4 linked regions of the Homo sapiens genome follow. The protein of the gene in region 1 purifies or fractionates together with the protein of each later gene. This does not show direct contact. Each region holds a gene or a part of one and is shown on either strand. Other genes may lie near its edges.

Evidence for each region.
Region 2: the proteins of SCML2 (region 1) and CSTA purify together in Homo sapiens (affinity purification with mass spectrometry; one large-scale study listed by BioGRID and IntAct). This does not show direct contact.
Region 3: the proteins of SCML2 (region 1) and DCAF1 purify together in Homo sapiens (affinity purification with mass spectrometry, with the first as the bait; one large-scale study listed by BioGRID). This does not show direct contact.
Region 4: the proteins of SCML2 (region 1) and BAG1 fractionate together in Homo sapiens (co-fractionation; one large-scale study listed by BioGRID). This does not show direct contact.

The regions. Positions count from the first base shown.
Region 1 is NC_000023.11:18,256,706-18,260,891, reverse strand, and holds part of SCML2 (sex comb on midleg-like protein 2), read left to right. Parts: intron 1-600; coding exon 601-721; intron 722-2,644; coding exon 2,645-2,848; intron 2,849-3,861; coding exon 3,862-4,044; intron 4,045-4,186. UniProt on the Homo sapiens protein: Putative Polycomb group (PcG) protein. PcG proteins act by forming multiprotein complexes, which are required to maintain the transcriptionally repressive state of homeotic genes throughout development.
Region 2 is NC_000003.12:122,328,032-122,332,217, reverse strand, and holds part of CSTA (cystatin-A), read right to left. Parts: intron 1-4,186. UniProt on the Homo sapiens protein: This is an intracellular thiol proteinase inhibitor. Has an important role in desmosome-mediated cell-cell adhesion in the lower levels of the epidermis.
Region 3 is NC_000003.12:51,419,851-51,424,036, forward strand, and holds part of DCAF1 (DDB1- and CUL4-associated factor 1), read right to left. Parts: intron 2,582-4,186; coding exon 2,457-2,581; intron 1,148-2,456; coding exon 1-1,147. UniProt on the Homo sapiens protein: Acts both as a substrate recognition component of E3 ubiquitin-protein ligase complexes and as an atypical serine/threonine-protein kinase, playing key roles in various processes such as cell cycle, telomerase regulation and histone modification.
Region 4 is NC_000009.12:33,251,432-33,254,855, forward strand, and holds the end of BAG1 (BAG family molecular chaperone regulator 1), read right to left. Parts: 3' UTR 1,040-3,424; downstream 1-1,039. UniProt on the Homo sapiens protein: Co-chaperone for HSP70 and HSC70 chaperone proteins. Acts as a nucleotide-exchange factor (NEF) promoting the release of ADP from the HSP70 and HSC70 proteins thereby triggering client/substrate protein release.

The sequences.
Region 1 (4,186 bases):
TGCTAGTGAAGTTTAACAATGCTCAGGAAACATTGGTTCTTATAGGCAGTAGGCATAATTTTGTATAGACTTTAGCAAGCCATCTGTTGTGATTTTGTCAGAATTATTGTATGTAATATGGAGAACTGTGGGTTAGACACAGCGAAGACTAACTAGATGAGCAACTTCTTTCTGAAAATAAACTCTGTCCTCTGCCTTGCTGAGATTTTTTTTCTATTGGAGGTATTGCTCTGGGTTAGAGATTTACAGACTTTTCTTTAGCAATGTGAAAAAACTTGTCTTACAGGGAACCTCAAAAAATAAAGTATGTTTTATGGAATAATCTAATTTGGCTAAGGTGTGATTAGTTGGAGCAGGGGTAGGACAGGGAATCCCAGCCATTTGGTCTCTTTCTCCCCTACCTGGACAGTTTGTGGTCCTCTGAGAAGCTCAGTTTGGAAAGTTCTGCAGTTCATGACACACACGGGAGTTTCCAACCTGAGGACTTCTGATAACTAATAATTTTATAAACCAATGATATTTATAATTTCTGACTTTCTTATCTAAGAATATATTAATGAGTATTGTATACTTGTGTTTTTTTCCCTTTGTTTTTAACAGGAAAAACCTTTGCCCGTGATATGTTCTACATCTGCAGCTTCTCTAAAATCGCTGACCAGAGACCGTGGCATGTTATATAAAGATGTCGCTTCTGGGCCATGTAAAATAGTGATGTCTACAGGTAAATTCATATTTTAAAAATAGTATAGAATTACTAATCTTTTATCCTGTATTATTTTCAGTGTCTTCGAAGTCCTGGAAATAAAATAATAAGGGAAAAAGATGGTAATATTAAACATTTATCTTTGCATTTTTCATATTAAAGTATTTTGAAATTCTGATTGTTCCATTTTACATTAAGGAAAAAGTCTTTAAATACATGAGTCACTTGAAAATTCAGATACTCTTAAAGTATTTTATCCATTTAAGTAAGATTTATGCAATTTACATTGTCCAATCTATTCTTGTTTTCCCTTTATCTCATTTCAAAATTTGTCTTTTTGTATGGTATGTATTTTCAAAGCTGCCTCAAACCTTTTCTTAATGCCTTTTAAAAATTATCTCCCTTACACTCTCCTATTCCCTGGACTTTTTTTTCCTTTTAATTTTTCTTTCCTGACTAAAAGTAAATTTAGTTTTTTAAAAATAGAAGTCACTTTAAAAATGATTGTTGTAACATATCTCATTTTTTTCAGTTTATTATTTCTGATTTTTAATTAGCAGGAAAGACTAGCTAAATGGATATAACACAAAGGAGATAAAACATTGAAATCCTTGTTTAGCTTCGCTTGTGTTCAGTAGAATTTGTCCATGTCATCAGCACCGTGGGTTGAATTTTTAATAGCTATTTCATTTCTGAAGGATAACAGTCCTTCCTCTGGCTGTTGCCACAAAATTGAATTGTATATTTCAACAGAGCAAAACTGAGATTGATCAGTTTTCTTATACTAAATATAGACTATGTGTGTGTGAAAGTTTTGCAATATTAATTAATGGATTAAAAATAACATGCTTCTTAGGGGGACAATTTATTTTATTTTTGGTAGTGATGTGCCCTCATGTTTTGTTTCTTTGTTGTTTTTTTTTTTTTTGAGACAGTCTCACTTCATCACCCAGGCTGGAGTGCAGTGGCGTGATCTTGGCTAAATGCAACCTCTGCCTCCCGGGTTCAAGTGATTCTTCTGCCTCGCCTCCCAAGTATCTGGGACTACAGGCATGTGCCACCACACCCAGATAATTTTTGTATTTTTAGTAGAGATGGGGTTTCACTATGTTGGCCAGGCTGGTCTCAAACTCTTGACCTGAGTTGATCCGCCCACCTTGGCCTCCCAAAGTGCTGGGATTACAGGCGTGACCAACTGCGCCCAGCTTCCCTCATGTTTTTATAGTGTATATTGATTTGCATTTGTTGATTCTCAGTAAAGAAAATTATTGGAAGTTGGCATTTATGTGATTATAGATGAATTGCTTCTATATCATATGCTTTTATTATACTAAGGAAAGAGTTTATTTTAAAATTTTCTTCCATGAATCTTGGTATATATAGAAGGAACATTTTTATTTTCCTAAAATTAATAAAATATTAATATATATCAATATAACTTGTTATATATATCTTAAATTGTTTGGTTACTTTAGAAAATATAATTGAGGTGCAGTATTGGTGATTTAAAATAAATTCAGTCCAAAAAAGAGCATAGCAAGATGACCCGTTTTGAAAGGAAATTCTTGTACTGTGTATACAATTAAAAGATGAAAATATTCATCTGTCTTTGTGCCATTTTATATAATGTGGGAATGTATGAAGAATTGTTTTTGTGATGTGCCTAAAATGTCTGTAGATTTTATATCATCAGTTTGGACAAGATTCTAAAAAATTGAATAAACATTTTGATTGTTTCTTTGTGGGTTCAGTGTCTTTGCATCAATGTAAAAATATATTTACATATTTTTAGGTAGCAGAAATGATCATTGATATTAACTATATTTAGGTTTTCTGTGAGTGAAGTGGATAGTGGGATATAGTAATTGATTATGTAGTGTTTTCACAAAATTTCTTTTAATCAGTCTCATTGTTATGTATGCATACGCATTTTTTCTCAAGTCTGTGTCTATGTAAACAAACATGGAAACTTTGGCCCTCATCTGGATCCCAAGAGAATCCAGCAGCTGCCTGACCACTTCGGCCCGGGCCCGGTGAATGTGGTGCTTCGCCGGATTGTGCAGGCCTGTGTGGATTGTGCCCTTGAAACTAAAACTGTTTTTGGATACCTGAAGCCAGATAATCGTGGAGGAGAAGTGATAACTGGTATACTTATCTAATACATTGTCTAATTCAGTCCCTTCCCCCTTCCCTTCCCCCTTCCCTTCCCCCTTCCCTTCCCCCTTCCCTTTCCTCTCCCCTTCCCCTTTCCCCTCCCCTTCCCCCTCCCCCGCCCTTTCTTCTTTCTTCCTTCATCTTTTTAGAACAGGGTCTCACTCTGTCACCCAGGCTGGAGTGCAGTGGTGTGATCTTGGCTCACTGCAGCCTCCACCTCCCAGGTTCAAGCGATTCTCCCACCTTAGCCTCCTGAGTAGCTGGGATTATAGGCATGCGCCATCATGCCTGGCTAACTTTTGTATTTTTAGTAGAGACAGGGTTTTGCCATGTTGCCCAGGCTAGTCGTGAACTCCTGGCCTCATGTGATCTGCCCACCTTGGCCTCGCAGAATGCTGGGATTACAGGTGTGAGCCACCGCACCTAGCCTGTAATATTTATTATATTAGTATAATAGAACATTTATAGGAGTTATATGTTTATAGACTTTAAGCCCTGGTTTGAAAAGTTTACTTTTAAAATGGACAAATGATGTCAGAATAATGTAAATTGGGACAAAAGTCACAGATTCTTCGTTTTACATGCTGTGTTAAGCTCACTATAGGCAGAGTACCTTGGCTGATAATATATTTTATCTATAAGAAGCTCTAAATAAATATGTGACTCAAGAAGTCACTAAGCAATAAGATAGTGTTGGTGGCTATGATCAGACACCACAACATTCATACCCATGGAATATTTGGAATAGAAGGAAGTGTTACATAGATCAGTGAGTTTCTGTTGTTGTTGTTGACTTAAGAGTATTTTCAAATGAGGATGTTTTTACCAATACAGGCTATTGTGTTTGAGAGGAGCTTTTATAATATAAGATCATTCCTTTATGAATTACAAAGAACACAAATTAGACTTATAATACCTTTCCTAAGGTGATAGTTTTTTTTTTAATTAGTGTTGTATTTCTCATCTCTCTGAGGTTACTGACATCCTTTTTTTTCCCCCAATAGCCTCCTTTGATGGGGAAACTCATTCCATCCAGCTCCCTCCAGTGAACAGTGCATCATTTGCTCTTCGCTTTCTTGAGAACTTCTGCCACAGTCTGCAGTGTGATAACCTTTTGAGTAGCCAGCCTTTTAGTTCTTCCAGGGGTCATACTCACAGCTCTGCAGAGCATGATAAAAATCAGTCAGGTGAGAGAAAATGTAAACTCTTACACTTCTGTTTCACTTGAGAATCTTGTGTAATTGTTTTTCCTTGTGTTCTCCTCAAAGTAAACATTTTAGCCACAGTGAACTAATTAGAAATGTATAACATATAGTTGTTTTTGTTCAT
Region 2 (4,186 bases), on another chromosome or scaffold:
AGAGATAGGGTCAGCTGGGGCATTTTCTTACCAGAGATCTGCAATCTCCTAAGACAGGTGTTCCCAACCCCTGGGCTGCAGACCAGTACCCATCCATGGCCTGTTAGGAATCGGGCTGCACAGCAGGAGGGGAGCAGTGGGCCAGTGAGCATTATGGCCTGAGCTCCGCCTCCTGTCAGATTAGCGGCAGCATTAGATTCTCATAGGAGTGGGAACCCTATTGTGAACTGCATGCAAAGGATCAAGGTTGCGTGCTCCTTATGAGAAAATAATGCCTGATGATCTGAGGTGGAACAGCTTCATCCCAAAACTATCCCCTCCACCCCATCTGTGGAAAAATTGCCTTCCACAAAGGTACCAAAAAGGTTGGGGACAGCTGGCCTAAGAAGAGTAGGAACTGAGACATCCTGCTGGAGGGACCATGGGGGTGGGAGGCAATGAACAACTGAAGAGAGATTTACATTTGTGGGGTTTCTAGAAAAAGACCAACAAATATGACTGCAAGAATGTTCTGGCAGCCCTGGGTCCTGTCCGGGTTGTTAAGCATTAATCCACAGGTTTGTAATGGTGAGTTTTCTGTGGTTCTGCACCTCGCTTTGGCAAAGTTCTTTGATTCTGGAACAGTAGTAGCTGCATAGAAAGTGGTGGCAGTGGGTGTGACCTTTAATTGAGAATTAGAATGTCAGGAGCTCCCAGGGTCAAGGAAATCATCATGAGTGGAGGAGTATTTGAAGCTACCCTCCTGTCATGGGGTCCAGGCTGGATGAGAGACTCAGTGGGCCTGGGCATGTTCTCATGAAGTTGGGAAGGTAGGTGCCTGAAGGATTCTGGTGTGGCTGAATGACAGGTTCTTTGGGTGTGGGACAGTGGGAGAGGCGACTAATAAGGAGGCTGTGGTCAGAGAGGGGAATGCAAATTTGTGGATGGGGTGAGAGCCATGACATGCTAAGTTCCAGGGTGTGCCCAGGATGGTATGCAGATGAAGTGTTTGTGCGGTGTCCTGACTGACAAAAATCATGTTCTGTGTGTTGGCCAGGAATAGTATTCAGCAATTAGGTTTATGACTAAGGGGAGTGTGTGTGTGTGTGTGTGTGTGTGTGTGTGTGTGTGTGTTTGTTGTGTGCATGCACATTGCATGTATAGTAGCCCTTACCTCTAAAAACAATTAAATAACATTTCTTTCCTTCTCATAAATATGCTCACAATTCTCATCAAAATGCTTATTAACATATTATATAAGATAATGGATCAGCAATAATGATCCGGAGGCTTTTGCTGTTGGGCCATTCATTTATTTGGTTCTTCGTTATACAGATTGTGGCTTTTCATGAATGGGCCTGTGTATGGCTCTGTCTTTCTGGATGTGTCCCTCTTAGCTCCATTCTATTTTATTAATTTCCCAAAGGGCAGGCACTATTTTATGTCCCTGCTACCCCCATAGCAATTCACACAGTTCTGTCTACCTAATCAATGTTTTCTGAATGAAAAGACCACAGTTGTTTTCCATCCTGACAACTTGTCTCCCCAAATAGGAAAGATGAGTATAGCAATGACATCAGCTAATACGGAGAATCTTGGAAGAGGGTTTTCTTCCAAGTGTACTTTAGTACATGGTGCTACAATGACATGTTCAGTCTCTGTTATCTTCAGAATGGGAAAACTCATTTCTCCTGCCTTCAAAAACATTCAAGTTTTCTCAATTGCCATCCCTTGTTTGCCTTTCTTTTCTTTCTGCCCTCATCCAATATTCCTCTTTCACTGTGATATCAAATTCCTTGGTCATGCAGTTATCATTTGTCTTTGACACTCTTCCCTTTTCTATGTGATGATCTTTTTCTTCCTTCTTTCTCTCCTTCTAATGGGGTTCTTCAGTTGGCCTTCCACTAAGAAGCTCTCTGAGAAGTCCAAGGAAAGCTGATAAACTTCAGCTCCTCTGAGAATACTTCCACTTTAACAGGTGATTTTAAAAAACAGAGATACATTCAAAAATAAAAAATAATAAAACTAGCAAGTAAGTGACAGGTAGTGGAGATTGTCCCTAAATTACTAGCATCTATCCATTTTCCCTATTCCTGCATGGGGACCTAACTGTAATTTTGGAGAAGGAATTGACTCAAGTTTCTCACCTATAAAGCGGTTATAATAATACCTGCCTCTTGGGGCTGTTTGTAGGGGCATAAATGATATAATTGACGTGAAAGTGCTTCCTAAACTACAAAGAGTTTTCCAACTCTTCCTCTACCTTCTAACACTGAATTGGAAATTGTGCCCTAAGGCTCACTCCTGCAAGAGAGGGCAGATAAGTGATAATTGGGGCTTTAACACCAGAGGAGCTGAACTGCCTCACAGTAATTATTCACCTGAAAGGAAGGAGGTTTGACCAGCAATCTCTAACATCTTTTCTGGTCCAAAACCTGTGATTATAAAAAAAGCACTTAATTGGATATTGTTTTATATTATGTTCCAGATATCTCGATTTTCCCAACTACCCTGTAAACTCCTAGAGGCCAGGGGCCATATCTTATAGACCTCATGTAGCTTCTATAATAATTAGCATAATGCTAGACACCTAGGAGATATACAAGAAATGCACCTACTATGAAATGATTCAGTGATATTCATTTCCTGTATTTATTTATTTATTTATTTTTTGAAACAGAGTCTCGCTTTGTTGGCCAGGCTGGAGTGCAGTGGCGTGATCATGGCTCACTGCATCCTCAACTTCCTGAGTGCAAGTGATTCTCTCACCTAAGCCTCCCAAGTAGCTGGGACTACAGGCGTGTACTACCTGGCTATTTTTTTGTATTTTGGAGGGGGTAGAGACAGGGTTTTGTCATGATGCCCTTGAACCACCCAGATCAAGCAATCTGCCCGCTTCTGCCTTCTAAAGTGCTGGGATTACAGCCGAGAGCCACCGCACCAGTCCTTCTAAGGAGTAAAAAATTTTATTTTGGCTGGGCGCGGTGGCTCACGCCTGTAATCCCAGCACTTTGGGAGGCCAAGGCGGGTGGATCATGAGGTCAGGAGATCGAGACCATCCTGGCTAACATGGTGAAACCCCGTCTCTACTAAAAAATACAAAAAATTAGCCAGGCATGGTGGCGGGCGCCTGTAGTCCCACCTACTCGGGGGGCTGAGGCAGGAGAATGGCGTGAACCCGGGAGGCGGAGCTTGCAGTGAGCCGAGACCGTGCCACCGCACTCCAGCCTGGGCGACAGAGCGAGATTCCGTCAAAAAAAAAATTAAATTTTAAATTTTTAATTTTTTTTTACTTTTTGAAATGGAGTCTCGCTCTGTCATCCAGGCTGGAGTGCAGTGGCACAGTCTCGGCTCACTCCAACCTCCACCTCCTGAGCTCAAGCAATTCTCCTGCCTCAGCCTCCTGAGTAGCTGGGACTACAGGCGCCCGTCACCACGCCCAGCTAATTTTCTAGTTTTAGTAGAAAACTAGAAAGTAGAAAGCTATGTTGGCCAGGCTGGTCTTGAACTCTTGACCTCAGGTGATCCGCCTGCCTTGGCCTCCTATATGGACTTAACTGTGAGGCTGGTGCTTCCACTGAGAAGACAAACTTACCACACTCTCTCCATTCAGTGTATTTCCGTTTCCTAACAAAGCTCCTCTGTGTTCTGCCACTGTGTGGTAGAGAGGGCAGGCAGTCAAACACTGGGGGTGAGCTAACTTCTTAACTAGGTGACTCTTTTTTTTTTTTTTTTTTTTGAGATGGAATCTTGTTCTGTGGCCCAGGCTGGAGTGCAATGTCATGATCTTGGCTCACTGTGGCCTCCGCCTCCCGGGTTCAAGTGATTCTCCTGCCTCAGCCTCTGGGTAGCTGGGATTACAGGCACCTGCCACCACGCCGGGCTAATTTTTGTATTTTTAGTAGAGACAGGGTTTCACCATGTTGGCCAGGCTGGTCTCGAACTCCTGACCTCATGTGATCTGCCCGCCTCAGCCTTCCAAAGTGCTGGGATTACAGGCTTGAGCCACCATGCCCAGTTTAATTAAGTGACTCTTAATCTCTTTGAATCTTGGTTTCATCATCTGCAAGATAGACACAATATCTTCCCTGCCTGCTCCAGGGGTTATGAAGATGAAATCAGAGCTCGAATGGAGGTCAAGCTTTTAAAAACTGCAAAACCCCTTTCTGGGGTGAGGTAGCTGTTCTTAATACTTATCTCTCATTCT
Region 3 (4,186 bases), on another chromosome or scaffold:
GGCTCAGGACATTGGTGAGGAGTAAAGAGGGAGAAAGGTGGGCAGGTGGCAACTGGATTCTTGCAGCGAGCATGTTGTTCTCTAAGATACTCTGTGATTATACTGTCCAGCGTAGGTGGGGAAGGAAGATGTCTGTCCAGCTGTTTTTTTATGGCTGGGCTTTGGCTGTAGGCACCATGGTCCGACTTCTGCCGCAACACTCTGATTTTCCTGCCATTGCAGGGTGATGGCCTCTCTCTGATAAAACTGATTCTACCAATCAAAGGGGAGTTGCCTGCATAAGATGGGCCGGGCAGAGCTAGCGGACCCTGGGGGGGCCGTGGCTGAGGATGAGCAGTAGGGGCAGAAGGCGCAGAGGCACCCACAGCAGCATGGCTGCCCAGACGAGTTGCAATGCCATTAGCGATACGAGGGGTTCGGGGTAGAGAGACAGGAGAAGCAGCAGCAGTGACTGGGGTAAAGGCAGAAGAATGGGAGGCAGCAGTCATGGGCAGGTCAGCCTCTTTTGTCAGCACGGTTGCTGTTTCTCCAAGCCCTTTAGAAATAAGATGGTTTCGTATCAACAAAAGCAGCTCTTTCTCAGGGAAGGAGATCCTTGACTGGGCAACAACATCTGCTTTCTGCAGTCGTGCTAGGGAAACATCAGTGCCAATGAGAAGTGGTTTTCCTGACACCCGTTCAATGAGTTCAGCAGCATACTTGCAGAACTTGACATGGTCACTGCGCTTGTCCTGCAGCACAGGCTCCTTCATCAGCTGCTGGATCTGGCAGCTGCTGAAAAGGGGCAGTTTACTGATGATCTGCCGGACAGTGCTACTGCGAGACAGGCCCACTAGGGCTTTGCAGGCCAGGGCCCGGATTTGGTCTGCATCTGTGATGGGCATCTTAATGGACAGTAAGGACAGGAGCACCTTGATGCCGTTGTTGGACTGAACCACATTCCACATCTTGGCCAGGGTGTGCTCACTGCTTTTAGGGTTCTGAGGCAGCTTTCTCCGAGGAGTACCAGAGATAAATTTACCAATACTGGATATTCGGTTATCTGGGCCACACACACAATTGATGATAATCTGAAGTGCTGACTTCTGAATTTCAGCATCATGGATGAAGAACTCACCCTCAGCCACTCCCAAAATAATGCTGATACCTAATGGGAAAAAAAATTATGTATTATTCACCATAAAACTAATGGCCAACTTCAATAGTTGTTCCAGAGTCAAAATTTGGTGTTCTACTCACTTTTACTTTAAAAAACTATATTACTTTTGTAAAAACTGCAAGGGTTTGTATAAAGTGCAGACAGTTCTACTACAATGTATTTTTATGGTATCTCATATGCAGTTATTAAATAGGGAAATCATGTCATAATTATGGAAAAGTAATCAAGGTTCATGTGCAATTTTTTCTGGTTTTATTATTTTTTTGAGGCAGAGTCTCGCTCTGTCGCCCAAGCTGGAGTGCAGTGGCGTGATCTTGGCTCACTGCAACCTCCGCCTCCCGAGTTCAAGTGATTCTCCTGCCTCATCCCTGCAAAGAGCTGGGATTACAGGCGCCTGTCACCACGCCCAGCTAATTTTTGTATTTTTAGTAGAGGTGGGGTTTCACCATGTTGGCCAGTCTGGTCTGGAACTCCTGACCTCAGGTGATCCACCCGCCTCGGCCTCCCAAAGTTTTGGGATTACAGGTGTGAGCCACTGTGCTCGACCTTTTCTGGTTTATTAATTTTAATACACTAAAACCTTAGGAACGGAGAAAGCCCTCGGTTGGGCTGCTACTGTGGAAGCAGAACCCTTTCCACTCTATTTTAAGAAAATTAAAAACCAAGTGCCTGTGTCTTAGTCCTATCCTGCATCTTGTCCCATCACACGACTTCCCATGCTCACCCCAGCAGTGCCCTGATCAGCCTTGCTCTTAATAAAGTATATTATCAAAGTATATTTTCCTTTTTTTATATATGTATGACGGTTTCTACCCATTTTGAGCTACCTGCCAATTACTGACTCAGGTTACAAAACTGCTTACTTTGTTGTTTTTTTTTCCCTTTAACTCCTGGAAAGCTGTGATGCTTAAGTTTTTTACTATCTGCCTCAACCCATTTTTCCCATGAACTTTATTTTTAGTGCAAGACTCTTCAGAGTGTGAGCTTTTCAGGAAAGCTATAATATACCATTATAGCAGAAATGCCAGTACCACTCAGAAAACCTGAGTTTACTAGCATGACTCCCTTACATCAAACTATCTGGTCCTACATTTGTATTTTTGTTTTTTGGTTTTTTTTTTTAAATTAGTTCCTGATCTGCTGAATGGTACTCCTTATAAAGGACAGACAAGGAGCCCCCCTCTACTACTTCTGTTCTAAAATCCAAAATTAGGTCAGGTAAGTAACCAAGACCAGAGTGGCAAAGAAAAAACAAATCCAGACCAAGAAACAACAAAAATGGCAAAGTACAACCTACCTACAGTAGAGACTGTAGATCCAGCCTCATCCAACACGTCCACTGATTCTGCCAACTGGAGCTGGATTTTTGGCACCACAGTAAGAATAGCCAGGACATCCAAAGCAAAGCGCACAGTGTCATTCCTGGACAGGAAGAATTAGTCAAAGGGAAATTAGAGTATAGCCACAAGAATCAAGAGAGACAGAGAGAGAGACACACAGACAGATAGACACATACACACAGAGACAATAAATCAGAAGCACTACCAGTGTGGCTCTATCTCAAGCTGTCGCATCAAGAGAGGATTTTATAGTCACCATGACATTACTTCCAAAAAATATAGCAATGGAATTTTTACCTATTAAACTTCTATGATAAAAAACATAGAATAATCCTGAATCCTTTCATCCTAGTGAAAACATATAGAGACACGTACTCTCAAAGTTTTGGTGAGAGTAGAAATTAGTACACTCTTTCCAGAAAGTAATCTGGAGGCCAGGCACGGTGGCTCAAGCCTATAATCCCAACACTTTAGGAGGCCAAGGTGGGAGGATCACTTGAACCCAGGAGTTTGAGACCAGAATGGGCAACATGGTTTTATCTTTTTCTATAAAAAAAAAATATAAGATATTAGCCGGGTGTGGTAGCACGTGCCTGTAGTCCCAGCTTCTCAGGAGGCTGAGGTGGGAGGATCACCTATGCCCAGGAAGTTGAGGCTGTGGTGAGCCGTGATTACACCACTGCACTCCAGTCTGGGCAACAGAGTGAGAGCCTGTCTCGAAAAACAAAAAAAAAGAAAAATGAAAAAAAAGAAGAAAAAGAAAGTAATCTGGAAATATGAAACAAGATTCTTAAAATGTTCATAAACCTTGTCCTAGAAATTTCACCTCTGACAATCTGTCCTAAAGAAATAATCAGGCCAGGGCCAGGCGTGGTCTCATGCCTGTAATCCTAGTGCTTTGGGAGGCTGAGGCGGGCAGATTGCCTGAGCTCAGGAGTTCAAGACTAGCCTGGGCAACATGGCCAAACCCTGTCACTACTAAAATAAAAATTAAAAAAATAAATTACCCAGGCTTAGTGGCGGGCGCCTGTAGTCCCAGCTACTCGGGAGGTTGAGGCAGGAGAATTGCTTGAACCCAGGAGGCGGAAGTTGCAGTGAGCTGAGATTGAGCCACCGCACTCCAGCTCGGGCCACAGAGAGAGACTCTGTCTCCACAAAAAAAAAAAAAGAAAAGAAAAAAGACTCAGGCCGGGTGCAGTGGCTCACGCCGGTAATCACAACAATTTGGGAGGCTGAGGCAGGCGGATGACCTGAGGTCAGGAATTCAAGACCAGCCTGGCCAACATGTTGAAACCCCATCTCTATTAAAAAATACAAAAACCAGCCAGGCATGGTGGTGGGCATCTGTAATCCCAGCTACTCAGGAGGCTGAGGCAGGAAGAACTGCTTGAATCTGGGAGGCAGAGGCTACAGTGAGCCAAGATCACACCACTGCACTCGAGCTTGGTCAACACAGTGAGACTCCGTTTCAAAAAAAAAAAAAAAAAGAAAGAAAGAAATAATCAGAAGAATTTATGTATTAAGATGTTCATTAGCCACATTAAAATAGCAAAAGAATGAGAAAACCCACATAGACAAGAGCACCATATGTGTTAGAGTATAGTACACTCATAAACTACAGCCATTGACAATCATTTTCAAAGAACCCTAAAGAATGAGGGAAAGGGTTCAAAATACAACATTAATG
Region 4 (3,424 bases), on another chromosome or scaffold:
TAAGTAGAAACCATTAACTAAATAGACAATGTCGAGGCCGGGCATGGTGGCCCACGCCTGTAATCCAATCACTTTGGGAGGCCAAGACAGACAGATTGCTTAAGCTCAGGAGTTCGAGACCAGCCTGGCCAACATGGCAAGACCCTGTCTCTACCAAAAACACAAAAAATTAGCCGGGCATGGTGGCACGCACCTGTGGTCCCAGCTACTCGGGAGGCTGAGGTGGGAGGATCGCTTGAGCCCAGGAGGTGGAGGTTGCAGTGAGCAGAGATCAAGCCACTGCACTCTAGCCTGGGCAAGAGAGCAAGAACCCATCTCAAAAAAAAACAAAAACAAAAAACAATGTGGGAGAATCCTTCCAGCCCTGAGGCCGAAGAATTCGTTTGTGGGAGCACACATTCCCATCTGTTCTCCCTGTGGTAAGACTTACCATGTCCCAGGCAAGTGGGCACCTGAGAAGGGGTGCTCTCTCCCCTTCTCACGGGAGAAGAAGGGGTGCTCTCTCCCCTTCTCACGGGAGAAGAAGGGGTGCTCTCTCCCCTTCTCACGGGAGAAGAAGGGGTGCTCTCTCCCCTTCTCACGGGAGAAGAAGGGGTGCTCTCTCCCCTTCTCACGGGAGAAGAAGGGGTGCTCTCTCCCCTTCTCACGGGAGAAGAAGGGGTGCTCTCTCCCCTTCTCACGGGAGAAGAAGGGGTGCTCTCTCCCCTTCTCACGGGAGAAGAAGGGGTGCTCTCTCCCCTTCTCACGGGAGAAGAAGGGGTGCTCTCTCCCCTTCTCACGGGAGAAGAAGGGGTGCTCTCTCCCCTTCTCACGGGAGAAGAGTTTCACAGGCAGAAACCCCTTGGGTGAGCAGATCTGCGTGGGTGGGGCCTGTGCAATCACCTATCACATCTGCCCAGCAGTCCATGCATTAGGGCCTCTTTTCTCAACCCTTAAGACAATAAAGGCTGTTAAGGCTGTAAATTCCAATGCTGACGGAGATTCTGAGGCCAAATGCAGCTATAGAAGTTTCACTATTGATGTGTGCATTCAACATTCATTTGTTCTCCAAATATTTATTGAGGTCTTACTATATACAAGACTATATAACAAGTTATGCTTGTTATATATGTTATATATGTTATGTTATATATATATATGTTATATATGTAATATAACTATATTACAAGTTATGCTTGAAATAATGCTGTTACCAAGATAAAGAAGCTCCTTCACCCAAGGAACCCTGGTGTTAAAGGCAAAGATTAACCAAATAATCCCACAAGTAAACTATCATGGACTATGTAAATGCTGTGAAAGAAATGTATGGGAAGTCGAGAGAGGATCCCACCTGGGGGCTGGACAGGGTCTCAACACAGTAGGTGAGGGTTCTCCATGCAAGAGACATGTGAGTTGAATTCTGAAGGATGAACAAAAGTCACCTATACAAGGGTAGGGTTGGAGGAAGGAAGGTGAGGAGCTGTTCAAGCAGAGGTAGTAGCAGGAGCAAAGACCCCCAGGCAGGAGAGGGTGCAGTGCATCTGAGGACCTGAAAGAAGAGTGGCTGACAGCAGACAGCCAACAAATGAGGGGGTTGAGATGAGATGGGAGAAGGCATGGGGTAAAGACTTTTGCCTAAAGAGAAAGTGAGCCATTGGAGGGTTCTAAGCAGGGGACTGACATGGCAAGATTTGCACTTCATGATCACTCGGGCTGCTCTAAAGAAAATGAACTAGAGCAGAGAGGAAGTGGGAGCTAGAGGGAGAGGCAGAGGACAAGAGGAAAAAAATCAGAGAATGGGCCTGTGCAACCCTGTGTTGGTTGAGAGGCAGTACAGTAGAGGGGAAAAGCACTGGCTCTGAAACCAAACCACCCAGCTTTGTGTCTTGGCTTTGCCGCTTACTCTACAACCTTGCGCTAATGACCTAAGTTCTCTTGGTTTCCTCATCTCTAAAATAAGGATATCTGTCTACCTCTCAAGTTATGTAAGAATTAAATGACTAATATATATGAATAGTTTAGAATGGTGTTCGGCAGTTTGGTGCACAGTAACTTCTCATTAAATGTTGTGGCCCACGCCACACAGCTATCACACAAAAATAGATCAATAGTGAACCACTCTGATTAAAGTTGGGGTGCGGTGGGCTGGGACCCGAGCCTTGTCCACAAGTCTACCTCTACTACCTTGTCTGAGGTCTTAACCTGCCCAGTCCTGAATTCCTGGGACTTCAACGACTCTCTCTCTGCCAAATGATGTGAGTCTTTAGGTAGAGTTATAGCGCAAAGGGCTACTATCAATGTTATTAAGCATAAATTATGACTAGAGCCACAGAATGATTTCCTCATTAATCCAAAAAAAAAAAAAAAAGCAAACCACTCTTCTACTTTATGATGAGCACATAAACAGTTTTTTTTTCTTTTTATTTATCTACTTTTACTTACTTAAATTTTAGAGATGGGGTCTTGCTATGTTGCCCAGACTAGACTCAAACTCCTGGGCTCAAGTGATCCTCTAGCCTCAGCCTCCCAAGTAGCTGGGACTACAGGAAGGAGCTACTGCACCTGACTCAATTTTTTTTTTTTCTGAGATGGAGTCTCACTCTGTGACCCAGGCTGGAGTGCAGGGGCGTAATCTCGGCTCACAGCAACCTCTACCTCCCAGGTTCAAATGATTCTTGTGCCTCAGCCTCCCCAGTAGCTGGGATTATAGGCACATGCCACTACGCCAAGCTAATTTTTTTTTTTTTTTTTTTTAAAGCAGAATGGGGTTTTGCTATGTTGCCTGGGCTGGTCTCAAACTCCTGGCCTCAAGTGATCCGCCCGCCTCAGCCTCCCAAAGTGCTGGGATTATAGGCATGAGCTGCTGCGCCAGGCCTTAATTTTTTAAAAACAATGATGGGGTGGGGGTGGGGGACAGTCCACAAAATGGATAGAACAGCTGTGAAGGAAACATAGAACTCAGAAGGATATGGTTAACAAAAATGCCTTTGAAGGAAGCACATGTCACTCCTGAGAAGTTTATGGTTGGCTTCACCACCTGCCTGCTTTACTCATTCTGGTGCCTTCTCTTTGCCCTTCCTAATCCATGGCTCTGGCCTGGTTTCAAGCACAGACTCAGTCAACACTGGGTTCTAACCTTCTGAAGACTTGCTTGGGGACAAGGAAGCCTTGCATCAACCACAGGCTCCATCCAAGGAACGGCCCCCTGGTATCTCATGGCCTGTGGCTAGTCAGGGTCACTGGGAGGTGAGGACAAAGTCTAGAACCCAACAACCCAGCCAGATGCTCTGGAATTAGGTCACAATGAGGGATAAGTGGTCTACTTATGTGCCAAACACCTTGTTCTAGGCCATTCCCAATATTCCTGACTAGGTGCAACCTCCTGGTGATTCTGGTTTTACAGCTATGGGACTACACGATCACAAGAGCAAAGAAGCCCTCATGT